4 linked regions of the Homo sapiens genome follow. The protein of the gene in region 1 purifies or fractionates together with the protein of each later gene. This does not show direct contact. Each region holds a gene or a part of one and is shown on either strand. Other genes may lie near its edges.

Region 1 (7,985 bases):
ACAGAGGCCTGGGCAGTGATGGGGTGGGGATGCCGTCCTGAGGCCGAGGCCGGAAGGAGCCTGGGTGCGCCTGAGGTGCCCAGCGGTGTGGGCCGCATCTTCCGCCATGGGTGAGAGGTGGTCCCGCTCAGCTCAGCCAGGGTGGTGAGACCTTGGTCACAGGGTGGCGCTGGCTGCTGGGGCCAAGGGAAGATGGGAGCCAGGCATGGGCCTGAGAGGGGCTGCTGCGTGTTTGGGGAGAGGGCTGGATTTGTGAGGGTCTCAGAGCCACAGTTGGTGGGATTGGGGGCAGTGAGGGAGGAGTGACTTGGGTTTCGGGTCTGCTCGGCCAGTTGGGTGGTTGGACTGTCAGCTGAGACTTGGAAGGAGATGTGGGAGCCGGAATGCAGGGGGGCTGAGTCTGGGCAGCCGTGGCCGGAGGGCAGCCAGGGTTCGGGGCCTGGGCCTTGCCGGTGAGTGTCACCCTGCTCCTGGCCCCCTCCTGAGTCCTAGCCACCAGCCTCAAGTGGCCCCCACCTCGTGGCTGTCCTTGTTTCCAGGTGACACCTTGTTTGTGGCTGGCTGCGGGAAGTTCTATGAAGGGACTGCGGATGAGATGTGTAAAGCTCTGCTGGAGGTCTTGGGCCGGCTCCCCCCGGACACAGTAGGCAGCGCCTCCCTGCGGGCCGGGGTGTGGGGGGCCTTAACCAGGGCGGGGCTGCTCTCCCTCCTGGCACCCTCTCACCGGACACCCCCCGGGGGCATCCAGGTCCCGTCCCTGAGGACTTTCACAGGTGGTAACAGCCTTCCGAGCTCACCTGTCACCTCTCTCCTCAGAGAGTCTACTGTGGCCACGAGTACACCATCAACAACCTCAAGTTTGCACGCCACGTGGAGCCCGGCAATGCCGCCATCCGGGAGAAGCTGGCCTGGGCCAAGGTGAGTGGGGCCGTCACTGCGCAGTGCCTTCCTGTGGGCTGCTCAGGGCCGCTGTGCACAGCGGGGTCGCCAGAGTGGGTAGACACTCACACTCTGAGCCCAGAGAGCAGGCCTGGGATTCAGGCCAGTGTGGCCCAGCTCGCCCTGCACGGCAAACCCAGGGGTTCTATGGAGATCCCTCTGCCTCGGAGGGTCTGGAGTAGGCCTCAGACGCTGCGTGTGTAAAAAGCGCCCAGCCTGTTCCCACATTCTGAGCAGTAGGGTCAGGCTGGCAGCACGTGGCTCTGCTGGCTCTCCAGGCCACAGAACGTGGCTCTGTGTCCAAAGGACTCTTATCTCCACGGTGGCCCCACGTGAGCCTCCATGGCGTAGCCCAGGCCAGCTGGGCCAAAGTCTGCCAGGAGCAGGACGGGGTTCTCCAGGGGTGTGTTTCCCCGAATTCACTGGAAACGGTGTCACAAGCACGCACGCCTGGGTGGTCTCAGGCGTGGGCTCCCTCTGCTGAGTGGAGTGAGAGTCGCTGCCTCTGACAGGGTTGTTTTAAATAAATCACCCGGTTTTTTGAGCATCTTTTTCAATTTCTTAGAGTAGAGGTTAACATTATTTTACAGTATTTACTCATGCAAATTCCAACTCTAAATCAGATGAATCATAAATACTCATCTTTTTTTTTTTTTTAATTTTTTTTTGAGACGGAGTCTCCCTCTGTCGCCCAGGCTGGAGTACAGTGGCGTAATCTCGGCTCACTGCAACCAGCACCTCCCGGGTTCAAGAAATTCTCCCTGCTGGCCGGGCGTGGTGGCTCACGCTTGTAATCCCAACTACTCAGGAGGCTGAGGCAGGAGAATCGCTTGAACCCAGGAGGCAGAGGTTGCAGTGAGCCAAGATCGCTCCACTGCGCTCCAGCCTGGTGACAGAGCGAGACTCCGTCTCAAAAAAAAAAAAAAAAAAAAAAAAAAATTCTCCCTGCCTCAGCCTCTTGAGTAGCTGGGATTACAGGCGCCAGCCAACACGCCCAGCTAATTTTTCTACTTTTAGTAGAGATAGGGTTTTGCCATGTTGGCCAGGCTCGTCTTGAACTCCTGACTTCAGGTAATCCGCCTGCCTTGGCCTCCCAAAGTGCTGAGATTACAGGCGTGAGCCACGTCACCTGGCCCGTGTGTCTGTCTTGAGTGGACAGATTGCAGTTTGAGGAATGTTGATGATGTTTGCACTTGTGTAATCCCCTCCACAGTCCAGATGTGGAACTTACCACTACCCCAAAGGCTCCTGTGTCCCTCCCATGTGGCGTCCCCGCCAGCTGTTGCTCTGCTGTGACCTCAGGTCACTTTCTAGTTTCCCATGAACAGAATCTCATTGCTCCGTCATCTCTGTGGCATTCTCGGCCCCGCTGATGTTGGTGAGGGTCAGCCACGCTCTTTGCTTCTGAGTAGCCCATTGTGTGGAAATGCTACAATTTGTTTATGCATTTGTCTGTTTCCAGTTTTTTGCTATTTGAATAAAGCTGCTATGGACATTTGTGTACAAGTCTTTTGTGAACATGTTTTTATTGCTCTTGGATACTACCTAAGAGTGGAATTGCTGTGTTGTGTGGTTAAAGGTGTGAACCGTTTTCCAAAAATGGTTGTACTGTTCTACAGTCCCCCACCAATGCTTGAGTTCCGGGGCCTCCATGCTGTGCCAGCACTGCTTGGTGTTGTCGGTCTCTCCAATTTTTGCCATTCTAACTTGCCTGTGGTGGCGTCTCACTGCCTTTAAAATGTGGATTTCCCCATGTGACCATCTTTTCATGTGTGTCGGCCTTTGGATGCCTTCTCATGAAGTTTATGTTCAATCTTTTGTCCATTTTAAATATTGGGTTTGGCCTGTTGGGCTGCTCTTGTAAGAGTTCCTTATATCATCTGGAAACAAGTCTTTGTGAGATATATATATATATGTGTGTGTGTGTGTGTGTGTGTGTGTATATACATATATATATTTATTTGTTTGTTTTTTGAGACAAAGTCTTGCTCTGTCGCCCAGGCTGGAGTGCAGTGGTGTGATCTCATCTCACTGCAAGCTCTGCCTCCCGGGTTCAAGCCATTCTCCTGCCTCAGCCTCCCAAGTAGCTGGGACTACAGGTGCCCGTCACCACGCCCAGCTAATTTTTTGTATTTTTAGTAGAGATGGGTTTCACCGTGTTATCCAGGAAGGTCTCGATCTCCTGACCTCGTGATCCACCCGCCTCGGCCTCCCAAAGTGCTGGGATTACAGGCGTGACCCACCACGCCCAGCTGAGATATATATTTAAAAGATGTTTTTCTCTCCCAGCTCATGGCTTGCCTTTTCATTTTCTTAACATTGTCTTTTGGAAAATAGTTTATAGTTTTGGTGAAGTTCCATTTACTTATTTTTTGTTTGTTTCTTTTTTTTTTTTTTGAGACGGAGTTTCACTCTTGTTGCCCAGGCTGGAGTGCAGCGGCGCGATCTCAGCTCACCGCAACATCCACCTCCTGGGTTTAAGCGATTCTCCTGCCTCAGCCTCCCGAGTAGCTGGGATTACAGGCATGCACCACCACACCCGGTTAATTTTGTATTTTTAGTAGAGATGGGGTTTCTCCATGTTGATCAGGCTGGACTCGAACTCCTGACCTCAGGTGATCTGCCCACCTTGGGCTCCAAAAGTGCTGGGATTACAGATGTGAGCCACTGCGCCCGGCCTACTCAATTTTTCTTTTATGTTTCTTGTGCCCTTTCTAAGATATCTTTGCATACCCTTAGCTCACAAAGACTTTCTCCTGTGTTTCTTCCTAGAAGTTTTAAAGTCTTAGCTTTTATATTTACAAACAATTTACAGTGTTCCCTTTCAAGATGGTGTTTGTGTGTGGTGCGAGGTGAGGGTAGAGGTTCACCCTCTCGCAGTGTGATCCCGAGGTGTTCAGGGCTGTCTGTCGAAGGACTGTCCTTTCCTCCCTGGATTGCCTTGGCACCTTTCTGAAAAGAATGGGCCCTCTATGCCCGAGTCTGCTTCTGGTCTCTGCTCTGTTTCGTTGGTCTCTATGACTTGCCACGGTGTCCGAGGACAGCACCTTGATGACTGTAACTCTGTGCTGAGTCTTGGCACTGGTATGTGTGAATCCTCCAGTGTTCTTTTTCAAAATGGTTTTAGTTGTTTTAAGCCTTTTACATTTCCGTTTTCAGAATCATCTCGTGAACTTCTATCAGAAAAGCTAGCCTGGCTGCTGATTGGGACTGTTGTGATAACTGATGTGGCGAGAATTGCGATCTTAACATTGAGTGTTTCTGTGAGCTTTCCATCTATGAATGTCTTTAGCTTTTCTCAGCAGTGTTTTGAAATTTGCGTGTTCAAGGTCTTGCACGTGTTACTAAATGGATCCCTAAGCACTTCTGGTCATGATTATTTGTTGATACTAGTTATAAATACAGTGGATGCGTATTAACTTCCTGGGTGTCTTAGTCTGTGTGGTGTTGCTATAAAGGAATACTTGAGGCCGGGTGACTTATAAAAGGAGGTTTATGTGGCTCATGGTTATGCAGGCTATATAAGCAGCATGGCCTGGGCGTCTGCACCTGGTGAGGCCTCAGGCTGCTTCTGCTCATGGCAGAAGGCGAAAGGAGCTGGTGGGTGTGAAGCATGTGGCCAGAGGAAGGAGAGAGTGGGGGAGGCAAAAGTTTCTTTTAAACAACCAGATCCTGTGGGAACTAACAGCAAAAACTCGCACTTGGAGCAGGGCACCAAGCCGTTCACAAAGGATTCCCCCCATGATCCAAACACCTCCATTAATTGGGGATCAGATTTGAGCATGCGTTTGGAGGGATGGACATCCCAGCCGCAGCCCCGTGTGAACACCCAGGAGAAGGGAGTGGCCGGGCTGGACGGGAGGTGTGTTTGACTTTTAAAGAAACTGCCAAACTCCCCTTCCCCGGTGCTTGTGGTGTTTGCTTTCCTGCTGGGAAGGCGTGGGCACACCAGCTGGTCCGTGTCTTTCGGCACACCACACGGTGGAGCCAGCCCACGCGGTGGAGCCAGCCGTTTGAAAGGAGGTGCTGGAGCCCAGTCCCTGGTGAGAGGCCGCCTCCTGCAGGGCGCCTCCCATTCTGCGGCCTCTGGTTTTCTTAGCAGTATCTTTTGAGCCAACATTTTTAATTTTAATGAAGTCCAATAGATTCTTTTATGCTTCATTCTTTTTTGTCTCCCATCTAAGAAATCTTTGTTTATCCCAAGGTCAAAAAATTTTCTCCTGTATTTTATTTTTGGAATTTGTATAGTTTTAAAACTTAGTATGAACTCCCACCCCCCAAATGTCTGCTGGATCTGTAATGATATTCCTGCTTTCATTCCTGATTTTGACAATTTGTGTGTTTTTTTTTTGTTTTTTTTTTTTTTTGAGACAGCGTTTCGCTCTTGCCGCCCAGGCTGGAGTGCAATGGCGCGATCTCGGCTCACCGCAACCCCTGCCTCCCGGGTTCAAGCGATTCTCATGCCTCAGCCTCCCAAGTAGCTGGGACTACAGGCATGTGCCACCATGCCTGGGTAATTTTTATATTTTTAGTAGAGATGGGGTTTTACCATGTTGGCCAGGCTGATCTCAAACTCCTGACTTCGTGATCTGCCCGCCTCAGCCTCCCAAAGTGCTGGGATTACAGGCGTGAGCCACTGTGCCTGGCCTGTCATTCTTTTTTTTTTTTTTTTTGGTTGGGGAGAGACAGCGTCTTGCTCTGCTGCCCAGGCTGGAGTGCAGTGGCACAATCTCGGCTCACTGCAACCTCCGCCTCCTGGGTTCAGGCGATTCTGCTGCCTCAGTCTCCCGTACCTGGGACTACAGGCCTGTGCCATCATGCTTGGTTAATTTTTGTATTTTTGGTAGAGAGGGGGTTTACACGATGTTGCCTAGGCTGGTCTTGAACTTCTGGGCTCAAGTGATCCTCCTGCCTTGGCCTCCCAAAGTGCTGGGATTACAGGCATGTGCCAACCACACCCGGCCTCATTCTTTTTGATAGGTGTAAAATATACTATTGCGTGGGTGTCACCCATAAATCATTTTACCAATCCCCATAGGAGGGACGTTGAGAGTTTTCAACTCCTTTTGCACCCTGGAGTCCAGAACCCACACGAGGTGGAGCTCTTCTGAGCTGTGCTGCAAGGACTGACCTTATTTTTTTATTTTTATTTTTTTGAGGCAGAGTCTCACTCTGTCACCCAAGCTGGAGTGCAGTGGTGCGATCTCGGCTCACTACTGCAGCCTCCGCCTCCCGGGTTCAAGCGATTCTCCTGCCTCAGCCTCCCAAGTAGCTGGAATTACAGACATGTGCCACCACGTCTGGCTAATTTTTGTATTTTTAGTAGAGACGGGGTTTCACCATGTTGGCCAGGCCGGTCTCAAACTCCTGACCTCAGGTGATCCACCTGCCTCAGCCTCCCCCAGTGCTGGGATTACAGGTGTGAGCAACCGCGCCCGGCCTGTTGTTCTTTCTTTGGGAGACAGTGTCTTGCTCTGCTGCCCAGGCTGGAGTGCAGTGGCATGGTCTTGGCTCGCTGCAGCCTCCACCTCCTGGGTTCAAGTGATTCTCCTGCCTCAGCTTCTCCAGTAGCTGGGATTACAGGCACCCGCCACCACACCCGGCTGATTTTTTCTATTTTAGTAGAGATGGGGTTTCACCGTGTTGCCCAGGCTGGTCTCGAACTCCTGAGTTCAGGCAATCCACCCACCTCGGCCTCCCAAAGTGTTAGGATTACAGGCGTGAGCCACTGCGCTCGGCTGACTGACCTTATTTTTGTCTTTAAATGCTTCGTACTTTGTAGGAAAAATAGCTAGAACATTAAAACTCGTTTTAATAGGTAACCTAAAAGCTTATGACAATTTGTACTTCCTCTGTTTTAAAGGTCTCCTTAGAAGTGTTAACTTTGCTTCCCTCGTAGGAGGCAGAGGGAGATTTCTTAGGATTGAGAATGTTGGTGGGAACACAGGGAATATTTTAAAACATTCTCAGATTCTTTTCGCCAGAAGGGAAGAACAGATTAGTGAGAAACCATCTTGGCATCTACCAGACCCCCGCTTGGTGCAGCTCTACCAGCTGAAGAGTCACTCACCGACACCACTGCCCATAGCGGGTGGGGAACCTCGGGGGTGAGGCGCGGTGGTCTTGAGCCTGTGCGTGGGCACCAGCAGCTTCTGTCAGAGCTCTGCCCTGAGGCCCTCCTGGTGCGGCTGCGGTAGAAGGGCCGGGGCTGTGTGGAGACCCCGCTGTTGCCGCCCTGTGTTTTCCTGCTAACTGTTGGCCCCGTGGCTGGGTTTGCATTCTCCTCCCCCCGCCCCCACCCCATCTGCCCTGGTCAGTGCTGGTCGGAAGGGAGACCATCTCCATCTCGAGAGGAGGTGACCAGCTGCCTGCCTGCAGGGGCTTGGGTGGCCTCCCCTGCTGCTGGTCCCTGTGCCCCTCCTCCCCGTGCTTGCTGTGAGGCTGCAGCTGTGGCGGTTTCTTTTCTGTGTCTCCTGCATTGCTGTTACCTCCATAATGTGAAATGTAAACCATGTGAATGAAAAGGAAGCTCCGTCCCTGTCGTCCTCTCCAGGCCGGTGCGGGAAGGCGGATGTGTGGCTCATCCCGGACGCTGGCTTCTCTTCCCTCTTCCACACGCGCACACCCGCCGGGCTCTGCTCACCTTGCCTTCTCAGCCTTGTCAGTCGGGCAGTGTCCTAAGGTTACCAGGAGGTGTTCTGAAGCATTTTTTGAGACGTGATGTCGCTGTCACCCAGGCTGGAGGGCAGTAGCACAGTCTTGGCTCACTGTAGCCTCGACCTGTGCTCAAGCGATCCTCCCACCTCAGCCCCCTGAGTAGCTGGGACCACAGGTGCCTGCCACCATGCCTGGCTAGTTTTTTGTATTTTTAGTAGACACAGGGTCTCGCCATGTTGTCCAGGCTGGTCTCAAACTCCAGGGCTCAAGTGATCCATCTGCCTTAGCCTCCCAAAGTGCTGGTATCACAGACGTGAGCCTCCGTGCCTGGTCTGCCATCCTGTGAAGTTCCCGTGATAAAGTGGTGCGTTTCTCTTGCAGGAGAAGTA
Region 2 (7,985 bases), on another chromosome or scaffold:
TTTTGCCACATAATGATTCTAAGCACTTAACCTAAGCAATCCCCTTCTGCTAGAGAGGCAGTGTTTTGAATGGAGAAGTCACTGGACCTTGTATCTGAACATCTAGTGCTTCCTAGCACTGCCTCTTGCTGGTTATATGACCTGGAGCAAATCACTTAGCCTTTCTGAAGATAAGTTTTCTATAAAATAAATAATTAATAAAGTAATAATACCTCCCTAGAGTTGATATGAGGATCAAAAGAAATAGTAAATATGAAAGCCCCAAATGGTTTAAATTGCTATGTCAATGTCATATGTTATCAGTGTGACTTTTTTTTTCCCTCAAAGCTTGGTGCAAACTCATGTTTTAGGTTTTATAGTATCTAGACACCCCTCCTTTGTTCTGAATAGATTGTATTAATTCCAGAACTTTTTTCTGTTTTCTTTCTTTTGAGAGCCCTTCTTTTATCAATTCCAATTTTGTTAAACCAAGACAGGACCATTAAGAGACCTAAAACTGGAGCCCCAGAAACATGTTCTCCACTACCACAGTCGTATGGTCACTCACACTTTCACCTGCAAACAACCAGCACAGGCATTCTAAAAGATCTGTTTTCTTTGCTACTAGATTTTATCAAATTCATGTATCAACCCTGTTAATTTTGTCATGACTTTTGATCAGTGTGATGTGATCTGGTCATTAAATTACAGAAATTTATATTCATTTTTAGATTAGGAGATATTTCAAAACAGAGTTTCTTGGGAGGACGGGAAGGCAAGGATTAAGAAATAATTTTAAAAGTGGTGGGGCCTTGATGGATTGAAAAAATTTGAGCCTTACCTGAAGCATGGAAGTATTCTTTTTGTGAGGACCAGAAGACCCACAAAAATAGTCCCAGTGACTCTACGTTAGGGGCAGTGAGAATTTGTGGTAAATAACTGCAAATGCATGGAGGCAGCCAAAATCTAGGATGGGTGGGCTAGAGAGTATTATTGGAGGTATCATAGTATTATAGTCTTGTGTATTTTAATTTAGCATAACTAAATATGCACAATGCTAAGTGCAGTACAATGTATTATGGATATAGAAATAAATCCATAAATTCCTTGAACCAAACAGACAAGCTTTCTGCCCTGAAGGGACTCAAATTTGTACGGTGGTGTTGGTTGTGGAAATAGGCAATAAAAAAATAAATATGTAAATACATAATATATTACATGGTAATAATTGCTATGGAAAAAAAGCAAGATAAGATGGCTAGGAATAGCATCAGAACTCACTCTGACCCGAGTCAAACTCATCTCAAATTTGCTCCCTCCAGGGTTTACCTTCTTGATTAATGGCACACCAATCCTCCCACCTAGAAACCTCAGAGTCGCCAACTGTTTCCCTCCTTCCACATCTCGTTGTTTAACAAATATCCTGGTGGTTGGTTGATTGTACCTTCTAAATGTTCTTAAAGCCATCTCTTCCTTACATTTCCACTACCAACAGAACCCTATAATAAATGCCCTCTTGGTCCAGTGTAACCATCTGGTCTCCTGTCTCCGGATAGGACAGTTCAACACTGTGTTTCTGAAGGACATCTACTGTGCTACAGAACATAGGGTGCAGATAGAAGCCAATGGGCTATGAGGCCATTACCCTCCTCCCTTATGAGAGGCCAGTTTGTTTTTGTTGGCTCTGGGTCTCAGGGAGTAGGGTTAGGGAAACAAACCAATAAAAAATAACCATCCAGTTACTCACTGTTTAATTTTAATGCTTTGCAAAATGCTTTCTATGGTATGTTACTTTTATTGTTTATTTCCAGTCATATGCAGTTCCCCTTCTCACCAACAGTTGAATGTAAGCAGGGTTGTTGTGTCCTGCTTACTGCAAGAAACAAATTTGTAGCACATATTAGGTAATCCATAAACAGTTATTGATCAATTAATGAATAACTCAGACTTTTCATCAAGGCTAATCTGTCAGCCAGCCTGAATTATTGAGGTGTTACTGTGAAACAGTATGAGTGAAGAAGTTTGTGAATTGGATCTTGAGCTGGGCATGGTGGCTCAACGCCTGTAATCCCAGCACTTTGGGAGGCTGAGGTGGGAGGATTGCTTGACCCCAGGAGTTAAGAGACCAGCCTGGGCAATATGACGAAACACCATCTCTACAAAAAATACAAAAATGAGCCGGGCATGGTGGCACATACCTGTAGTCCCAGCTACTCAGGAAGTAGATGTGGGAGAATCGCTTGTGCCCAGGAGGTCAAGGCTGCAATGAGCTGAGATCGCAACACTGCACTCCAGCCTGGGTGACAGAGCAAGACCCTGTCTCAAAAAAAAAAGAATTGGATCTTGAGGAACATGTCACCCCCATGTCTTTAGTTCAGCAAAACTTCACAGAGAAAGGCCACCTCATAAAATCGTGAGGAAGGGCAAACAAAATATAAGGAAGATTCAGAACCACAAGCAAAAAATACAGCTAATGGGGTTGTCTAAGTAAAGAAAGAAAATAGCTCAGATGTTTTTCCCATGCTTCACTAAAGCCTTCATTTTCATGTGTCAGGGTGCTAATATAAAACTTCAGTGATAAGTTGTATATCTAGTGCCAAAGACTAGTTTCTTTAGGGGTGCCATTGAATCAAAATCTTTCATATCTATAAAACTTTTGAAATATACTGAGATATGAGATCTCAAAGGCAGATAGATAAAAGCACATATTCTGGCATCAGAATACCTGGGTTTGAAAGCTGTTTCTGCCATTTATCTGTAGAGTAACCTGGGCAAGTTACTTCTAAATATAATGATAAAATATCTACTTTAAACAGTTGTTACGAGGAATGTAATTGGTAAAATATGTAAAGTCCTTGGAATGGTGCCATGTTTATTTTAATTGCTATGTAAATGTTCAAGATGACTGCTATTATTCCTTGTTCAGACTTATATTTAGCTCTAATTTTTCTCAGAAAACTTTCTTAGGGTGAGATTACTGTAGTTAAGCTGAAGTGATGTAGCTGGTTTTTGTGCATGTTAAAAGTAAAATAATTTTTGCAGTTTCTTTAATGTAAATTATCTGTGTGCAAAATAATGCTAATGTCAACGCAGTGTTCCAATTGTGTGATTATCTTCCATTTAATTTTCAGGAGAATCCTCATTGACACTGGAGAACCAGCAATTCCAGAATACATCAGCTGTTTAAAGCAGGCTCTAACTGAATTTAACACAGCAATCCAGGAAATTGTAGTGACTCACTGGCACCGAGATCATTCTGGAGGCATAGGAGATATTTGTAAAAGCATCAATAATGGTAAACAGAAAACATTCATTAAGCTCATTGAGGAAAGCCGTGTTTGGAGAATAATTTATTTCAGTTACAGAGCTAAGTAGTCTATAAACCATTTACTAAATACCTCAGTTTTAAATGGTACTTTTAGAAATTGATTAGACTGTTGAATACTGTGCCTAGTTTTAACAAAGGAGGAACGGAAATCCTGATTTCTGTTTCAAATCCTCAATTTTACTTTAGTGTGTGAGTTACTATTCAGACTTAATCATAACTAACAACTGTTGAGCATTTACTCTGTGCCAGGCACTGCACTAAACAATTTATGTGGATACTGTGAGGTAGGTGCTCTTATTGTTCACATTCTAACAGATTATCTCAGTCCTTCTGTAACTTTAAGGCAGTTACTAAGATATGCTGAAATTCAGGCAATATATCATTGTATTGATAATTCATTGTCCCTGAAACCTATACAGTACTGACATTTTCTATCTCTTTATTTCCTCATCCCACCATCATATACCTAGATTCATTCATTCATTCATTAAATATTCCAGTTACTGTTATATGTCAGACAGTGTTCTTGGCACAAGGGGTATAGCAGTGAACAAAACAGACTCTGTTCTCATGGAGCTTTCATTCCAGTAGGGAAGGTACTGGTAAATAAATAATAGATCAGGCTGGGTGCAGTGGCTCATGCCTGTAATCCCAGCACTTTGGGAGGTCAAGGTGTGTGGATTGCTTGAGCTCAGGAGTTCAAGACCAGCTTGGGCAACATAGCAAGACCCTGTCTCTACAAAAAAAGTACAAAAATTTCCCGGGTATGGTGGCGTGCACCTGCAGTCCCAGCTACTCGGGAGGCTAAGGTGGGCAGATGGCTTGAGCCAGGGAAGCTGAGGCTGCAGTAAGCCAATATTGTGCCACTGCACTCCAGCCTGGGCACCAGAATGAAAAAAAAAGGGAAAAAAATAGATCAGATAATCATGGGTGCTATGCAGGAAAATAAAGGTACAAGAAGAGAAAGGGAAGAGAGCGTAAAGTGGAGAAGGGCAAGGGCTGTTATATCCAGAGTGGACAGAGAGAAGGAGCAAGCTCCTGGCAGGAAGGCCTGCAGGCAAACAGCATTGCAGGAGCAAAGATGGTGGAATGAGAGTGTGGTTGGCACATTCAGGGCACAGTAAGGAGGTCAAGAACATTCATGCTTATTTACATTGAGCTAGTATTTTTAAACATTTGTAAAGATCTGCTTTTTTAGGCCTTGTGACTACAATTGGGACATCTCAGCTACCACACCCAATATCACCAGGCTGCCAGTTATAAAAAACTGGCAACCAAGCTTCCTTACCCTCTTAGCTCCTTTCTTCCAATCTAAGGGGACTGTGTACCATAGGAACTTATAATCTGTCAGTCTGACTTTTCCTTCTCTTGTCTTACCTCTTTTAATTTTGTCTTACCTCTTCTTTTAATCTACCTATTAAATCTTGTGAATTAAAAAACTATTTTATGCCAGGGACGGTGGTGTGTGCTTATAATCCCATCCACTCAGGAGACTGAGGCAGGACGATAGTTTGAGCCCAGCAGTTCAAGACCAGCCTGAGCTACAAAGTGAAACCCTGTTTGCGGGAAAAAAAAAGAAAAAAAAAAAGAAACTACTCTGTGATTTCTTAATTAGCTTTGTCACCTCAGCCAACTCTTCAGATTTTTCAGTTTGAAAAATTAAAATGTTTATGGCCCACTTTTTTCCTTCATAAATCAATTTTATTGAGCTTTAATTTACATACATAAAATGTGCCCATTTTAAGTGAACAGTTTAGTGAGTTTTAACAAACATCAATACCTATGTGACCATTCCAGTCAAGATATGGAACACTTCCTCCATTCCAAAAAGAGGTCCCCTCATGCTGCTTTGCAGTGATTTCCCCCATCCCCAGCCTCCAACAACCACTCAAATAGGATATGTGTTTTCATTTATATTTGCACATAATTTTGAAGACAGATACAAAGTTATAGTATGACATTTATTTTGTAATTTTGATATAATTGTGATTTTTTAATTGTCTACTAAAGGTCTCATAAGCAGAAATGTAATGCCTCCATTTCTTTACTGAAAGATAAAATTATACAGCTTATAAACAAAACAAACAAAAAAACCTCAATATCTCAATCTTGTTATATAATGTCAATTCCCAGAAAAGCATATCATTGTTTTCCTTCGGCCTCTTAGATACAAAATAATAGAGTTTGGGGTTGGAAGGGGAGGTGGTATTTGTTGTTGTTTCTTTTTATTTCAGTGTTTCTGTCTCCTTTATCCTCAAACTAGCAAATTTCTGTGCCTTGTCCATTTTTCTTTGAAATATCTCTTTCTCCCTTCATATTTCCAGTGCTACCGTCTTAACCCTACTATTCATTACCTTCTAGCTGGGAAATTGTAGTCATTCCCCTCCTGGGCTCTCTGATCTCCTTTTGGTCTCCCTACCCACAGCCGCCATATTGATCATCAGTTAACACTATTTCATTATCTTACTAAAGAGTGTGCAGTGATTACACGTGGTAAAGTTTAAATTCTCCTATTTTGTAAAAGGCAATTTGAGACCCTTTCTGATCTGAGCTTATCTTACCTATCCAACTTTATCTCCACTCTTCCTAGCCAGTATTTTGCAGTAGAAAGTTGGTAGCATTATGTTGTCACACATATGTCATGCTCATTCTCATTTTAATGCTTTATTTTTTTGAGACAGAGTCTCGCACTGTCGCTCGGCCTGGAATGCAATGGCGTGATCTTGGCTCACTGCAACCTCCGCCTCCTGGGCTCATTCGATTCTCCTGCCTCAGCCTCCCGAGTATCTGGGACGTTAGGTGCACACCACCACACCTGGCTAATTTTTTTGTATGTTTAGTAGAGATGGGGTTTCACTATGTTGGCCAGACTGGTCTCGAACTCCTGACCTCGTGATCCTCCCACCTTGGCCTCCCAAAGTGCTGGGATTACAGGTGTGAGCCACCACGCCTGGACTTAATGCCTTTTCTAATGCTGTTCCCCTTACCTGCAAGTCCTTCTCTGTACCTTTACCCATCCTGCTCATTCTGTAAGTCACACCTCAAGTTCTATCATATTTATAAATCCTTTCCTAACTCTCTCTGAACTCCTGCTGCCTTTATTAGCCGAATTGTCCATTTAATATTCATTAAATGGTACCAAGTATAGTTCTTTGTTTCATGTTTGTAAGTTTTAGTTTCCCAATCAGGACAGCTTTTAAGAACTTTGATATCACAGTGGTTGTATTCAGTATACCTAGTATACTGGTTAGTTAATTGGCACTCAATTGTTAATTGGTTAATTAATTTATTTTCTTTGTGTCAGTGAAGGGTGGTATAGATTTAGCTTATTTTAAAGGTTTAATATCTTAGCCACTGGTTTGGGGCTTCATTTCAGTACTTGTAGCAAGGACCTCATGCTTTCGTTATTAATTAATGTTTATCCTTTTGTTATTAATTACTGTCATGACACCTTTGCTACATGTTAGGCACCTGGATAGAGAAGAGTTTCCAGGTTCTGTATTAGTGCCTCTTCAACACTTGTCAGGATGCCGAAGCTAGCTACTTTTAAATTTTTTGTATAAACTAGGACTGACTCAAAAAATAGAGGCTTTCATGTAGACCTAGAGGGGCATGAAAGAATGAAGAGCTGTTTGGTTGAAAGATATGAAATATTTACATCCCAGAGATAACCTGCTGTAATTCATCCCATTTTCTGTTGTCTCTTAATGTTAATATTTTATGCAGTCATTCACAAGTGTTAGCTCTATGAAAGTTGATCTCTTAAAAGGCTTAATTATAAAGTGTGAATTAATATATTTTATATGTTTTATGACTAGACACTACCTATTGCATTAAAAAACTCCCACGGAATCCTCAGAGAGAAGAAATTATAGGAAATGGAGAGCAACAATATGTTTATCTGAAAGATGGAGATGTGATTAAGACTGAGGGAGCCACTCTAAGGTAAGTAAATGTCCCTTAGCCAGGGAAGGTGAAGAGTCTGTGTATGTGTGTTATAGAAAAGGATGGAAGGATCCCAGCATTTTGGGAGGCTGAGATGGGAAGATCGTTTGAGCCCAGGAGTTCAAGACCAGCCTGGGCAATACCAAAAAAAAATTTAATTAGCTGAGCATGGTGGCACATGCCTATAATCCTGCTATTCAGGAGGCTGAGATGAGATGATTGCTTGAACCTGGGAAGCAGAGGCTGCAGTGAGTCAAGATTGTACCACTGCATTCCAGCCTGTGCAACCGAGTGAAACCCTGTCTCAAAAAAAAAAAAAAAAAAAAATAGAAGATCTGTGCATATGTGCTGGTATGTGTAAAGAGTACATCAGGAAGGATACAAAAGAAATCCAATAAACATTGCTTACTCTGGGAGGAGAAAATGAGTTGCTTGAGAAATGAGAAAAGAAAGACTTCACTCTTTATTAAATTGTTTATTTGAATCATATGATTACCATTGTTTTAAAAAATAAAATTTACACTTTAAAAAATAAGTGTTGTCTCCCAAGGAGGCTTAGGGATCTACCTATCAATTCAATTCAGGGCTTTCCCATATTCTCACTTCCCAAAGATGACCCATACCTAAATTAAATAAGTTTTAGGCCTGACCGATCATACCTCATGACCTATCTGAGGGTTTCAAAATGGTATTTCAAACTCAGTTATTGTAAAACTGAACTCCTCTCTCCCCC
Region 3 (7,985 bases), on another chromosome or scaffold:
TGTTTAGTAAGTTCCAGAAACTTAAAGAAGGTTTACTCGGTTGGGACTTAAGAAATGACAGAAAATTATCTTGAGATGGAAGGAGAGAGCCATATCGTGAATGGTCTTTTGAGTTATGTTAAGGATTTTTAAATTTTTTCCTGGCATATAATACCTGTCAGGTAATACATGACCAAAATGTAAATTTCCTATTCCTTCTTCTTCACTGGGTCAATACAGGCTTGAGTTCAACCGTAGCTTTGCCGCTTACTCTGAGAAAGCTTCAATACCTTTATTTGCAAAATTAGAATCATGACGGTATCTATTTCTAAGGATTAAATTGGGTGAGAGAAGCTTGTAAAGTGCCTAGGACTGTCCCTGACACATACAACTAGATATGATTATCTTTGGAATATGAAAGAAATACTCCCGTGAGCTAATGTGGTCCAATAAGTTTTGAGGGGAAGCGGTAGCATTTAGAGTGAATCTTAAAGTAGGACTTAGGAGGAAAGTCATTTATGTTCAGGGAACAAGATGACAAAAACATAGAGGTAAGAAAAGCCAAGTGTCCTTAGAGGATAGTTATAGTAGACCAGCTGGCTTTTAGTGGCTTGTCTGAGTTGCTGGGACTTACTTTCAGAAAATAGTTTCAGCCTGCTTTTAAAAGGCTTGGAGTAGCAAGCTAAGGCATTTGCATTTACTTCTTAGGTCACAGCAGGGCTGAAAGCCTGCAGGTAGGCTTTGTTTGACCTACAAGTTTTGTTTGTTTAATTTGTTGGCATTTAAATATTGGAATATAAAAATCTAAATTTCCTGTAAAAAATTCAGCTTTTGGTCTTTTTTTTTTTTCTTTTGAGACGGAGTCTCACTCTGTCACCCAGCCTGGAGTGCAATGGCATGATCTCTGCTCACTGCAACCTCCATCTCCCCGCTTCAACCATTTCTCCTGCCTCAGCCTCCCAAGTAACTGGGATTACAGATGTGCACCACCACACCCAACTGATTTTTGTACTTTTTTTTAGTAGATTTGGGGTTTCACCATGTTGGCCAGGCTAGTCTCGAACTCCTGACCTCGTGATCCGCTCACCTCGGCCTCCCAAAGTGCTGGGATTACAGGCATGAGCCACCGTGCCTGGCCCTTGGTCTCCTCTTTAAAGAAGAAAAAATGGGCAGGGCGCAGCAGCTCACGCATGTAATCTCAGCACTTTGGGAGGCTGAGGCAGGCAGATGACGACGTCAGGAGATCCAGACCATCCTGGCCAACATGGTGAAACCCCATATCTACTAAAAATACAAAAATTAGCTGGATGTGGTGGCACACACCGGTAATCCTAGCTACTTGGGAGACTGAGGCAGGAGAATCGCTTGATCTAGGGAGTCAGAGCCAAGATTGTGCCACTGCACTCCAGCCTGGTGACAGAGTGAGACTCTGTCTCAAAAAAACAAACAAGAACAACAACAAAAACCCGGAATGTCTGTCGGCGATGGGTCAGTATTCCTGCACAGCAACACTCGGCTGGAACTGAGCAGCTGCTGATCCTTTAAATGGTGCATGTGCTTGTTTGTTATTCACTGTCCTCACCCCTATTGCATTATACTTTGCCTGTCCCAGCCATTAACTTTTCCATTGTGATCATTTTTGTTTGCAGTGCCTCGTAAGGCAGTAATGATCCATGGAAACATTTTGTTAAGAAGGTGATAGGATGAAAGTATTATCAGAAGCCAAGTTTGACTTCAGATTTCAATATTTCTTGGTAGGTTGGGAAATGAGGGATATTGGGAAACATGGAGTAATGAGAACATAAAATAATGTGACTAATGAACTAGGGTAATAGCAGGAGGTGTAGAAAGAGAGGAACTTCAGGAATAAAAATTAAATTACACATAGTGACTTTTTGGCAGCGGGATGCAGGGAAGTAAAGACATGGTAACTGTAAGAATCTGACTTAAATGTCCAGATGAGGAATTGATGGGGCAATTAAAGTTACGAGGCTGAAAACTGGGAGAGAACTTGATGTAGAATTATAGATTTTAGTATAAATCTTAAAGAGGTGAGAGGTAGAAGCTTATGAAAGTTGAAGTGAAAGAGAGAAAGAAAGGGAAGAGAAGAGGAAAATAGTAAGGACTGAACTTTGGGAAAAAGTGGGAGAAAAAAAAACTATGGAAATGGATGAGACATTCAAAGAAAGAGGAAAAGAAAGAGCAAGATATTCTAGTGTCATGCATTGTAAAGGAGAGAAAAGATAAAAATAGTGGTCAAGGGCTCTAGAGATGCTTTGAGGCTATTGAAAATCAAAAAAATATCTGCTGTGACTCAGAGATTCTTGATGACTTTCTATAATATGATATCAATGGTGAGATAAGGGCCAAAGCCAGAATAGCACATTACAGAGTGAACTGGTATAGGCAAAAACATTCCATGAGGATATTCGACAGTGACAGGAAGATGAAACAGGATAATATATGGCAGTATGGTGGTATCTGGGTCAAGTAAAATAAGTTTCTTCCTCATTCCTTATTTCCTCTCCTCCCTTTAAGAAGAAATCTATGTTTAAATGCAGAAGTGAAGAAATTATGAAATAGGAATGAAGGGAATTTTGCTTGTTTTGAAGCCTACTGCTCAACAGGACTCCTTGTTTTTGCAAGTTGAACTTTGTGTGGTTTCTTATGTTAATTTTTTGCTTTTGCTGCTACAAGTTACTGAAAGAAACAGGTTGCAAAAGTCTCAGAATTGGTATAAAGAGTACTCAGTAGATCTGTTTGTTCTTTTTAAATACTACAGTGATTCTAGTGAGCTAAATATCTCAATATTTGTTTGTGAGTCTGACAGGGAGGATAAGGAAGCAGCTGAAAAGGGAAAAGATAATGAATATTTGTTGAGTCCTTTCTCTGAACTATCAACTATACAGTAGAGTCACATATTTCCATTTATTCCTTCCCCAGATGCTGCAAAGTTAGTATTATCATGCCTTTTCTACATATGAGGGAATTGAATCTTAAGGCCACACAGCTAGTTAGCAGAGGCTAGACCTGGGTTAGTATTAATAGCTCCAGTGGCTAAGCCCAGAATCTTTTCCTCCAAATATCAAGGGAACTGTTCCGAAGGCAGGTTGCCAAATCTTGGCCAACCTGAAAAAGATTTTTGGCTACTAAATTGAAGGAGACCAAAGAGATATGAATTAAATGCAAAAGGTAGTTTCTGAATATTTTCACCATAATTGATATTTTTGAGGACAAGTAAGAAGCCAGAACAGGATTTCAGGATTGGATGGTGGTAATGTGTCAATATTAGTTTCCTGAAGTTGATGGTTATAGTATCGTTCTCTAGAAGAATGTCCTTATTTATAACAATTACATATTAAATTATTCTAGGGTTCTTGGGCATCATGTCAGTAAATGTTTCAAAGGGAAAAAAAAAGTACTTTATCTTGTAATCGCAAATTTTCTGTGAGTTTGAGATTGCTTCAAAGGAAAATAAATACAAATATAATGGGGATTTTATGTATCCAGAAAGCAATTTAATCCCCCTATTGAACTTTGGCTCTTTGGCAAACAAATGCTCAGCTACATTAAACTGTTTGGGAAATTCAGTATTTGTCAGATATTTTTAAAATTACATTTAATTCTGGTTTGAAGGTGAGAGTGTTATATAAAGAGGAAGAATTTTTCTCCTTTTGACAAACTCTAAATTAAATGAATTTATTCATAGCGTTGTACACAGTAAAGGTATATTTAAAATATAAAATCATCATTATTTTATAGATTTAAAAATATTTTAAGAAGGTATCTGCTTGGCATGAAAAATTGCCTGTTAGAAATAAGGCCTCTCAAAATAACCTCATCAAGAAAGACCAGTTTTAAAAGATGGGCCTTATTTTATATTCTGAAGGTCAGCAGCTTGGTACTGTGCCGTATCTAATTTTCTCAGCCTGTCATGCTGCTGAACCTTCAGGACAGAACAGAGTGAACTACAGGAATGCTGCAATTACATAAGCAAGGATGGATTGCCTGGCAAATGGCGCAATCAATGAACAATGGAAATTCAATCGGCTGTGACTGATCAACTACTAGGTGTTGGGGGAAAATCCACACTCTTATCACCGCCTGAAAGGTGGCTTACTTTTCTTTTGTCATGCCACATATAGTATTAGTTGAAAGGACAAAAAAAATCCAGTGGTTGAAGTTGTTTGCTTGTTCTTCTTCTTCTTTTTATTTTTTTTTATTCTACTTTCATAAGCAACAAGCTGCAACTCCATGAGGGAGATCATTGCTTTCCACTGTGGTGTGACATTTGTAAGAAAAATGTGTAGGAGGCTAATGAATCTTTGCAATTATATATATGAATGTAATAACCTCTCTAAATTACAGTTTCAAGTATATGTGAATGTGGAGCTCAAATCCTTTATCTAAACTACGTGGATAGGGAACTTGTTATATTAAAGGTATTAATTATATTTGTTTTTGTCAGTGTTTTAGTTGAATGAGGTAAGGAACAGTGCATAGAAAGGATAGGTATTATTTTTATAATATCTTAGGAAAATTAAAATTTGTGAATTTTGAGTTTGAAGGAGTCCAATTGGAAATACGAGGATAGTAAAAAACAGAAGGTCTTTCAAATACTAAATTAGAGAGGGACAGAGTTTAATTATATGGCTTTAATAATTTAAAACATTAATTGCCTTAAGAGGGAGGAAAGCAATTAAAGTCTGTAGGTCTTTGACTTATGACCTGACTCTGGACAATAGGAATACCTTCTCTTAAGGTGTTTATGGTAGAATAACAACACTTGCCAAGTATAATCTTTCAAGGTGTCATTGCTAAGTGGATGCAGCAGTTAAGTAAAATAAATTTGGTAAGATGAAGAAGAAGGAGCAGGAGAAGAAGAAGAGCAGGAGGAGGAGGAAGGAGGAAAGAGGAAGAGAAGAAGAAGAAAAGAAGGAGGAAGAAAAAGAATGCTTAATTTCTACTGTAGATCTGGCCAGTATAGATATCTGTAGAAAAATTTAGTAAGACTAAAAAAAAAATTAGTCACTCCGTATTATTGTCCATTTGCTAAATAACTTTAATCTAATGAGTGCATGGGAGCTTAGAAAAGTCCACTTTTGCGCTAATCTCACTTTGCATTCTCTCCATACATTTTTTCTTATTTTCATAGAATTCCATTGATTTTCAATTGAGAGGCAAGTATTTTTCTATAATAAACCACAAATACCTAGACTGTGCCTTCCTCTAACTCTCCCTCCCAACTCTCCCTCCTTAAGTACAGATGAAATTTGCCACTCTTATCAATGGGATTTGTTGGATACCCTAATTTTGGTGGTTAGGAGGAAAAAGTATTGAGAATTAGTTAGTGGAGAAAACAAACTGATTTCTGGTTCAAAATCTTGGCTCTACTCTTTGAACAGTATCTTGGTCCAAATAATTATAATACGGAAGAATTATAAAATGCATACTGTGATGGGTATTACTATTTTTTGTGTTGTTTCTTTTCTCGTCTGTTCTCTTCTGCTAATATGTAGGAAGATTGGTCTTCCCCACATATACGTGATTATGCGATTAGCTTTGGCCACTGCAATAAGAGGAGCAAGGCTTTTCACTTAGTTAATTGCCAGAGCTTCAATTCTTAGTTCTTTCTCATCTACCATGGCCATTTGGAAGTACATGTAGAATAGAAGCAGTTTGGATTGCTAAGCAAAAACGTATAGATGACAATGTTTTGGGGAGTCTACCTGAACCCACAATGGAGTGGCGTGAGTGAGAAATAAACATTTATTTTTGCAAGTTACTGAGATTTTGCAATCGTTACCGTATGGCATAATCCAGCCTGTCCTTACTGATTGAGGGGTAAATAATAACTTTATGACTGTTGGGATAATTTAGTCTGCTAAAGTACATAAACATTGTCAGGTATATCATAAAATAGCTAACCTTTTTATTATCTGTTATCATAAAAACAGCTGTTATGAAAACAGCTAACAACTAAGCTTTTTATTGTCTCCATAGTATGCGCTAGATACAATACTAAGTGTTTTAATTTGTTTAATATTTATAACAACTCTGTGAGGCAGGGCCAATTTTTATTCTTGTTTAAAGGGTTTGGAAATACAGTTTCTTAAGAAACTTGCCTAAACTTATAAAACTAGTAAATAGCAGAGCTAAGATTTCAACCCAGGCTGGCTGAATTTAGCATCTGTGCTCCTAAATATATTCTATTGCTTGTTGAAAATAGTCTCAATTAATTTTAGATTTTTAAAAATTTTTTAACTCTTCTCCTCTGAAACCGTTTAAAGTTTTTACTTTTCTTTTTAAATAGTGATATAAGAAGAGTTTTTAAAGTTTGGGTCTACATCTCAAAAACATTCTAGATATGGAATAAAAAATAGCTGTTCTTTGAAAAAATAAACTTTTAATTTTTTATTGTGTATGACAGTCCTAAAGGTGGGAGGAAGGGAGCTTTAAATGAGTTGACAGCTTCTTTAGAAATGTTTCCTGGACAATAGAAAGCAATATTAATCTCTTCCTTAAAACTACTCTGTTGATTTTCTGGCTTAAGGAAAATCTATAATGACCACATTATTCATTGCTTATAGTATGCTTTAATGTTATTTTTATAAGAACATGATAAATAGCCTAATTAATTTGTCTAATTATGAACACTTGGAAATTTACTCCTCCAACCTCTCAATAAAAAAATAGGATTTCTTTATATGTTAAGTTGTTGGTTTTATTTACTTTTAAATACGTTGATGTGTACTATTTCTTTTTATTTTTCTTTCATTCTTTTTTATCTTGATCCTAATTCCCTTCTGCATTTTCAAGCAGAAGATATGCAGGTGGAGAAACCTTGATTAATGGCATATGTTAAGTGCAGAGATATATTTCTTGGAAATTGCATTGCAACTGGCTCCCTTAGTTCTAATAATATCCCATTTTTTAGGAATCCAGTGCAAGGTCAATGAGTTGTGTCTCTCACCTGTGTTATTCCATAGATATTGCCAAACTTTGGAAAACAAATGATCTAAAAATGTTAAATGCTTCCTTTGAGTGTTTATGGGATGAGTCAAAAATATATGTGCAGAGTCTGTAATAGAATGAGAAGGAAACTAACATGTGATTATTCTCTAGCTTGTTACTGAGTCATTCCTTTCTGTAACCTGATGTATTATCGTCAATAATGATAATGGTGATAGTAATAATAACAAAACAATGACAATGGCAAAGACTATAGTACTGCTGTTTTGGTACTAATTATGAAGAATTTGATTTGTGTTGGGCCCTATGCTAATCACTATATGTATATTATCTCTTTGAATCTTCCCAACAACTCTTATAATGCATTTTTATAATACTGTAAACAAATGCACAGAAAGATAAGTGGCTTGTCCGAAGTTATACAGTGGTGGACTTAGTTTTTTCAACCCAGTTGGGTCACACTGTAGAGCCTAATTTCAGTTATAAGTTGTAATTATGCTCTCTACCTTCTGTTTTACATAGCAGAACCTAGAGAGTGAAAAAGCATGAGAGCAATGTAGCATTCTTAAAAATGTTAATCGGGATTTAACTTCCCTTTGCTTTATTTGTTCTCTGTGTTTCTGTGTGTTTTCCACTCTCCTCTTATCTTAGAGAAATGTAAGTCCTCACTGTTTTCCCAGAGCCAACTTGCACATGTCTTTTTGATTTCGTCGCCTTTCAATGTCTCTAGGGATTTTATCTTAAAACCTTTAGTGGTTCTTTCCTAAAAAGCATTTCAATCTTGTTTTCTTTTAAGCAAATTTGGCAAAAATGCTCAATGCTCATCTACATTTTGTCACTTCACATCTATTATGTGAGCTCATGCTCTATTGATACTTCTACCAATAATTTGACACATCACCACTCAGTAATAGGAGAGTAGGGTTCAGGTCTAAATTACATTTGTGATCTTCGCAGCAGAATGCACAAAGCCTTCTGTATATATCAGTTGAACTGACATTAAAAACTTCACCATATACAGATTTACCTTCTAA
Region 4 (7,672 bases), on another chromosome or scaffold:
GCCCTGACTCACGCTGCCTCATGCTGTCCCCAGTTCTTCGAAGGGAAGGAGCTGCGGCTGAAGCAGGAGTATTTCGTGGTGGCTGCCACCCTCCAGGACATCATCCGTCGCTTCAAGTCTTCCAAGTTCGGCTGCCGTGATCCCGTGCGCACGAACTTCGATGCCTTCCCAGATAAGGTACCATGCGTGTGGAGGGCGACTCTGTGACCGGACAGTGTGTGCTAGGCCTCTCCCTCCAGCCTCGGCCTGCCTGCCCCATGTAATAGATAAGGGAGTGGAGACTGGGAGTGTGGGAGGGTCAGTTGTTCAGGATTCACAATCCACAGGCTCAGAACCTGGGCTTCCCTCCTCCTCCCGCCCCACTCCCCCCATTCCTCCCACCCCCATGAGCACCGGCCTGCCTCTGCCCACAGCCCAGTCACAGAACCGTGCTGGGCTCTCTGGGGGCCTCCAAATGGCATAGGGCAGTGACCATAGCATGGAATGTGGTTTGGAGCCCAGACTGACCCCTCCCCCTACCCCAGGTGGCCATCCAGCTCAATGACACCCACCCCTCCCTGGCCATCCCCGAGCTGATGAGGATCCTGGTGGACCTGGAACGGATGGACTGGGACAAGGTGGGCTTCAGGGCCCCTCTGCCCCATCTGATGCTCTCTGCCTCGGGGTTCCCTTCCCAGTTTGGGAGCGTGGGAGGATATGAATGGAGTGAAGGGATCAGAGCCTGAGGCCAGAGGGACCGTCCTGGAACCTGGCACTGCAGTGGGGGGGCCCACTGGGATGCGTAGTGTGTGAGGAGACCCACTGGGCTGAGGTCAGCATCCTGACTGCCCACCCCGTGTGCCAGGCGTGGGATGTGACAGTGAGGACCTGTGCCTACACCAACCACACGGTGCTGCCCGAGGCCCTGGAGCGCTGGCCGGTGCACCTCTTGGAGACGCTGCTGCCGCGGCACCTCCAGATCATCTACGAGATCAACCAGCGCTTCCTCAACGTGAGTCCGGAGGCTTGGGGGATGGTGTGGGGGTGAGGGGGGACACCCAGTCTGGGCCTGGGAGTCGGGGCGTCCAGCCAGGGCCCTGAGACTCTGGGGCAGTGGGGGCACTGGGCAGAGCTCTGGGGGTGTGGGGCTGGGGACTGGGGATGGGGGTTCCTGGGTCTGGTTCTAGCTCTGGGCTCTCTGGGCACAGCGGGTGGCGGCCGCATTCCCAGGGGACGTAGACCGGCTGCGGCGCATGTCGCTGGTGGAGGAGGGCGCAGTGAAGCGCATCAACATGGCACACCTGTGCATCGCGGGGTCGCACGCCGTCAACGGCGTGGCGCGCATCCACTCCGAGATCCTCAAGAAGACCATGTGAGCCCCGCTTTCCAGATCCCGCCCCTCTCTAGGCCCCACCCACTCCACGCCTCTGTCACACAGAAGCCCCGCCCTTCACCGACCACTCTCTGGTCTCTGGGCCCTGGCGCCTTTCACAGGTGGCGTCATTCTTACAAGCACAGCAGCCCCTTCCAGTGCCGCCCTGTCCTGAGATGACCTCCTCTTACACACAGCACCCCCAACCTTCCCCAGGTCTGCATTCCCTGCCCCAGGCCCCTTTCAGCAAGACACCAGGGTAGGGGCCCCAGGGCAGAGGCCTTCATTGTACAGGGGTGAGTGGTGACCCTCGTCCAACCTCATCCTGCAGCTTCAAAGACTTCTATGAGCTGGAGCCTCATAAGTTCCAGAATAAGACCAACGGCATCACCCCTCGGCGCTGGCTGGTTCTGTGTAACCCCGGGCTGGCAGAGGTCATTGCTGAGGTGAGAGGCCACCGTAGGGCCAGTAGAGTCAACATGGGTCCCTGCAGGGATCAGCTGGGTATGGTCGTGTAGGTGGTTCACTGCATCAGGGCTCCCAGCTGAAGGCTGAAATCCCTCCTGCACTGTGTTCCCCAAGCCTCGCATCCACCTGGAGGAGGGACACCATCTTAATTGCATGAGGGTGCTCTGTGTGCTAATGGAGGCCCTGGCTGTGGAGGTGAACACAGCAGAGGGAGTCATCCATGGGTCACATCTGAAGTGAGCCTGGAAGGGGGCAGATATCTGGTAGGGAAGGCGCAAGGTCATGCTGGCGTTAGGAAAAGGCCAGGAAGCCAGGAAGGCCTGCTGGGGTCAGGTGGGGTCAGCCATCAGAGCTCAAGGACGGGAGGGGAGGAAGGTGCATGGATGCCCCGTGCCCCATCTGGGCGGCTGGAGGAGGAGGGGCTGGGAGGGCCCCCAGAGCAGCCTGCTGGGTGAAGGGGGCTTGGCTGACCTGGAAATGGCCCCTTCTGTGTTGGGAGGAGGGAGGACATGGGGATGGGCTTGGCTGAGAGCCGTCTTCCCATAGCGCATCGGGGAGGACTTCATCTCTGACCTGGACCAGCTGCGCAAACTGCTCTCCTTTGTGGATGATGAAGCTTTCATTCGGGATGTGGCCAAAGTGAAGCAGGTGGGGAGAGATGCAATGTGGGACAGCTGTGCTGTGTGGAGAGCGCTGGAGGGGCCAGATGTCTGGGTCAGGCGTGGCAAATAGAGCTCATCTCTCCTGCCAGCCCAGGCCGTTGGTGGAAGTTGCCTGGAGTCTGTGGTGGGAAGGCATCATCTGACCTCACATGAACAGTGCTGACATTGATTAGCAATGTCTGCCCTGGTACAGGAGTGGACAGAAGTAGCCAGTGAGCCTCCTGGTAGCCATCCTCCTGGGGCTGACTGGAGTGTGGACTGTAGGATTTCCTGAGGCTGTGGCCTGTTGGTGAGCCCTTCCCCGTCTCTGCCTCCAGGAAAACAAGTTGAAGTTTGCTGCCTACCTAGAGAGGGAATACAAAGTCCACATCAACCCCAACTCACTCTTCGACATCCAGGTGAAGCGGATTCACGAATATAAACGACAGCTCCTCAACTGCCTCCATGTCATCACCCTGTACAACCGTGAGTGGCAGCCACTCTACCCTGTCTCTCAGTGCTCCCCCGTGTTCCTGCGGCATAGTACATATTGCCCAACCAACATCTCCTTTGGACTTGGGACTACTCTTGGGACATGGAATTATCCCCATTTCACAGATGGGCAAACTGAGGCTAAGAGAGCATAGCAAGTGATTGTTCGAGTCAGGCCTACGGTGTCCCAGCCCAGCCTCTGTCAGGAGCTACTACCCAGAGGGAAAGGTAGGCCCACTGGATCCCTCTCGTTTCTCCACAGGCATCAAGAGGGAGCCCAATAAGTTTTTTGTGCCTCGGACTGTGATGATTGGAGGGAAGGTGAGAAGCCAGGCTCCAGCCCTGGGCTCCCGTCCTTTGATATATCCAGGTTGAGGTCAGCCCAGCTGAGTTGCAGGATAGGGGGTGGGGGGCCAGGCAGTAGAGCTGACCCCAGACTTTGTCCCCTCAGGCTGCACCTGGGTACCACATGGCCAAGATGATCATCAGACTCGTCACAGCCATCGGGGATGTGGTCAACCATGACCCGGCAGTGGGTGACCGCCTCCGTGTCATCTTCCTGGAGAACTACCGAGTCTCACTGGCCGAGAAAGGTGGGTGCTGCCAACAGGGACCCTAGGGAGGCTCTGACTAGTTCAGTCTCAGGAAGAGGTATCAGTCGTCTCTTCCTGGGATACTTGTACTTGAAAGAAGAATCTGGAGAGGGCAATGCTTAAACCATGAGGAGGCCAGGCGCAGTGGCCCATGCCTGTAATCCCAGCACTTTGGGAGGCCAAGGTGGGTGGATCACCTGAGGTCAGGAGTTCGAGACCAGCCTGGCCAACATGGTGAAACCCCGTCTCTACTAAAAATACAAAAATTAGCTGGGCGTGATGGCAGGTGCCTATAATCCCAGCTACTTGGGAGGCTGAAGCAGGAGAATCACTTGAACCTGGGAGGCGGAGGTTGCAGTGAGCCGAGATCACGCCATTGCACTTCAGCCTGGGCAACAAAAGCAAAACTCCGTCTCAAAAAACAAGAGGAAACAAAACAAAGCAAAAACCCCATGAGGATGCCCTCTAATGGTGGAATTTCAGGCAGTACAGGGTGAAATTACCTTCAAATCTGCAACAGAGGTGGGGAAATCCAGGTTGGACCTAGATGGTCAAGAATCAACAAGAGGTAGAGGGCAGTGGGGGTGCGGTGTGAGAGGGAGGCTTGGCTGGTGAAGACTGGGAGTTTGGGGTGGGGCGACTCTGAGTCCAGCTATGCCTGGGGCCAGCCTAATCTGAGAGTCCCCAGCTGGTGTGAGGGTCTTCCCTGAGTTGACTTGTCCCCCTGCTGCCACCCCACAGTGATCCCAGCTGCAGACCTCTCTGAGCAGATCTCCACTGCGGGCACTGAAGCCTCAGGCACCGGCAACATGAAGTTCATGCTCAACGGGGCTCTGACCATTGGCACCATGGACGGGGCCAATGTGGAGATGGCAGAAGAGGCGGGAGAGGAAAACTTCTTCATCTTTGGCATGCGGGTGGAGGATGTGGATAAGCTTGACCAAAGAGGGTATGGGGGTCAGGGTTCACGGGCAAAAGACACCCAGGTGTGGCTGCTGGAGAGTGGTGCTGGGAGCAAGCGGCACGTCTGGAAAGACTGGTCCAGGCCCAGCAAGGTCTTGGTCATGGCCAGCAGGATTCTGGGAAACTTTAGAGGGCGCTTACAGCAAATAAGGTTAATGAAATTGGAAAAGAAAGAAGTAATATAGAACTGAAGGAAAAGGAAGAGAATATTATATCAACCCTAAGAGATAATATTGTTTGGGAAATGGAAGTAAAAAAATCCTTGCTCTACGCCGGGTGCGGTGGCTCACACCTGTAATCCCAGCACTTTGGGAGGCCAAGGCGGGCGGATCACAAGGTCAAGAGATCCAGACCATCCTGGCTAACACGGTGAAACCCCATCTCTACTAAAAATACAAAAAATTAGCCGGGCGTGTTGGCAGGCGCCTGTAGTCCCAGCTGATCGGGAGGCTGAGGCAGGAGAATGGTGTGAATCCAGGAGGCGGAGCTTGCAGTGAGCCGAGATCGCGCCACTGCGCTCCAGCCTGGGTAACAGAGTGAGACTCTGCCTCAAAAAAAAAAAAAAAAATCCTTGCTCCCTGAAAGCCATGGGCAAAAGGGAAATATGGGCACAGTAGTTACAAGGGGCCTATGGTCAGAAACAGTTCTTCAGAGAAGACATTATCCTGGCATTACATTAAAAAATTTTATTTTATTTTATTTTAATGTATTTTTTTTTTTGAGACGGAGTCTCGCTCTGTCACCCAGGCTGGAGTGCAGTGGCGCGATCTTGGCTCACTGCAAGCTCCGCCTCCTGGGTTCACACCATTCTCCTGCCTCTACCTCCCGAGTAGCTGGGACTACAGGCACCTGCTGCCACGCCTGGCTAATTTTTTGCATTTTTAGTAGAGACGGGGTTTCACCATGTTAGCCAGGATGGTCTCGATCTGCTGACCTCGTGATCTGCCTGCCTCGGCCTCCCAAAGTGCTGGGATTACAGGCGTGAGCCACTGCGCCCGGCCTTTTGTTTTGTTTTGAGATGGAGTCTTGCTCTGTCACCCAGGCCGCAGTGCAATGGCACGATCTTGGCTCACCGCAACCTCCACCGCCCGGGTACAAGCGATTCTCCTGCCTCAGCCTCCTGAGTAGCTGGGATTACAGATACCCACCACCACGCCCAGCTAATTTTTGTATTTTTAGTAGAGACGGGGTTTCATCATTTTGGCCAGGATGGTCTCTATCTCCTGACCTCAGGTGATCCACCCTCCTCGGCCTCCCAAGTGCTGGGCTTACAGGGGTGAGCCACTGCGCCTGGCCTATTTATTTTTATGTTTTTGAGACAGAGTCACTCTGTCACCTAGGCTGGAGTGCAATGGCATGATTTTGGCTCACTGCAACCTCCGCCTCCCAGGTTCAAGTGATTCTCTCACCTCAGCCTCCCGAGTAGCTGGGATTACAGGCACCCACCATCACGCCCAGGTAATTTTTGTATTTTTGTAGAGATGGGGTTTCATCATGTTGGCCAGGCTGGTCTTGAACTCCTGACCTCAAGTAATCCACCCGCCTCGGCCTCCCAAAGTGCTGGGTTTACAGGCGTGAGCCACCGCGCCCTGCTTGAATCCTGATATCTTAGCATTGGAGAGAGATTTTCCATGTTATTAGTCTTCAAAAATATTTTAAATGTTTGTATAACATTCCATCCTATGAGCATGTCACAACTTATTTAATCAATTCCATGTGGCTGGACACTAAGGTTAATTTCCGGTTTGTTAAATATTACTGTGATGAGCAACCTTTTAATGTCTACGTCCACATCTGATGATTTCCTTAAGATAATTATCAGAAGGGTGATATTTCTGAGTTAAAAAGTATGAGTTCTTAAGGCTCTTGATACAGATTGCCAAACTGCTTTCCAGAAAGTTTCTCCCAGTTTACACTCCCACAACAGCTTCCCAGAGTTGGCATTAAACACTGAAAGAAGTGTCTCCTGTGAGGCTTCACTAGAAAGCTGGCTGTCCCATGGGCAGGAGGGAGCTGTGAGATGTTGTGAGCATGGTCCCGCATGCTCAGAACGAGGCCTGGAAGAACCCTCTGGCTGCAGGATGGAGACAGTGCTGGAGGGGGCAGGTGGGGGACCACTGTGGGGGCTGACACCATAATGCAGGGAGAGTTGCCTGAGAGTCGCACAAGGGACTAGAGAGTCGCACGAGGGATTAGAGATTTTGTGGGGAGCGCTGGTTTCTGGTTGGAACGGTTAGGTTTTGAGACTGGCCTGTGGAGCGCTTTGAGCCGTGGTGGGGGCGCTGAGGGTCAGCTGAAGGGTTATCTTTTTTTTTTTTTTTGAGATGGAGTCTTGCTCTGTTGCCCAGGCTGGAGTGCAATGGCATGATCTCGGTTCACTGCAACCTCCGCCTCCCGGGTTCAAGTGATTCTTCCACCTCAGCCTCCCGAGGAGCTGGGATTACAGGCACACGACACCATGCCCGGCTACTTTTTGTATTTTTGTAGAGACTGGGTTTCACCATGTTGGCCAGGTTGGTCTTGAACTCCTGACCTCCTCAGATGATCCGCCCACCTCGGCCTCCCAAAGTGCTGGGATTACAGGCGTGAGCCACCATGCCTGGCCCAGTTGAAGGGTTGTACCTGTTAGCTGCTCTTGCTGCCCCAGGGCAAGGCCGGATATGGACTTGGGCTACTGGAGGAGAAAAGCCATTTTGGAGCAAACAAACTGGTTAAGAGACAGCAGTGGCGTGTGGGAGAAAAGAGCTTGTTTGGGGGCCTTGGCTCTAACACTTAGCTTTCTGTATCCTCCGGGCCTCAGTTTCTTCATTCACAAAGGAGGGATGAAAAGCTGAGCAGAGAAGGGGAGTTGCAGGGAGGCCCTGCAGGGGCGATGTGGCAGCCCTGGGGAGCAGCAGGCTGGACCTGGGTTTTGACCCTGGGGCATGGGACTTCTCAGCTTTTCTCTGGAAGAGGAGCCAGGAACCCCTTTCCGGGGAGCTGACCACAGCTCTGTCCTGGCAGGTACAATGCCCAGGAGTACTACGATCGCATTCCTGAGCTTCGGCAGGTCATTGAGCAGCTGAGCAGTGGCTTCTTCTCCCCCAAACAGCCCGACCTGTTCAAGGACATTGTCAATATGCTCATGCACCATGACCGGTGAGCTGGTTGGCCCGGGAATCACT

Evidence for each region.
Region 2: the proteins of HAGH (region 1) and LACTB2 fractionate together in Homo sapiens (co-fractionation; one large-scale study listed by BioGRID). This does not show direct contact.
Region 3: the proteins of HAGH (region 1) and ACSS3 fractionate together in Homo sapiens (co-fractionation; one large-scale study listed by BioGRID). This does not show direct contact.
Region 4: the proteins of HAGH (region 1) and PYGM purify together in Homo sapiens (affinity purification with mass spectrometry; one large-scale study listed by BioGRID and IntAct). This does not show direct contact.

What each region holds. Positions count from the first base shown.
Region 1 is NC_000016.10:1,809,826-1,817,810, reverse strand, and holds part of HAGH (hydroxyacylglutathione hydrolase, mitochondrial isoform 1 precursor), read left to right. Parts: intron 1-539; coding exon 540-643; intron 644-816; coding exon 817-918; intron 919-7,977; coding exon 7,978-7,985. UniProt on the Homo sapiens protein: Thiolesterase that catalyzes the hydrolysis of S-D-lactoyl-glutathione to form glutathione and D-lactic acid.
Region 2 is NC_000008.11:70,657,023-70,665,007, reverse strand, and holds part of LACTB2 (endoribonuclease LACTB2), read left to right. Parts: intron 1-1,728; exon of another isoform or gene 1,729-3,110; coding exon 3,111-3,274; exon of another isoform or gene 3,275-4,863; intron 4,864-7,125; coding exon 7,126-7,252; intron 7,253-7,985.
Region 3 is NC_000012.12:81,082,543-81,090,527, forward strand, and holds part of ACSS3 (acyl-CoA synthetase short-chain family member 3, mitochondrial isoform 1 precursor), read left to right. Parts: intron 1-7,985. UniProt on the Homo sapiens protein: Catalyzes the synthesis of acetyl-CoA from short-chain fatty acids. Propionate is the preferred substrate. Can utilize acetate and butyrate with a much lower affinity.
Region 4 is NC_000011.10:64,747,198-64,754,869, reverse strand, and holds part of PYGM (glycogen phosphorylase, muscle form), read left to right. Parts: intron 1-33; coding exon 34-177; intron 178-524; coding exon 525-617; intron 618-844; coding exon 845-991; intron 992-1,187; coding exon 1,188-1,351; intron 1,352-1,682; coding exon 1,683-1,797; intron 1,798-2,365; coding exon 2,366-2,467; intron 2,468-2,798; coding exon 2,799-2,946; intron 2,947-3,214; coding exon 3,215-3,273; intron 3,274-3,403; coding exon 3,404-3,545; intron 3,546-4,286; coding exon 4,287-4,494; intron 4,495-7,511; coding exon 7,512-7,646; intron 7,647-7,672. UniProt on the Homo sapiens protein: Allosteric enzyme that catalyzes the rate-limiting step in glycogen catabolism, the phosphorolytic cleavage of glycogen to produce glucose-1-phosphate, and plays a central role in maintaining cellular and organismal glucose homeostasis.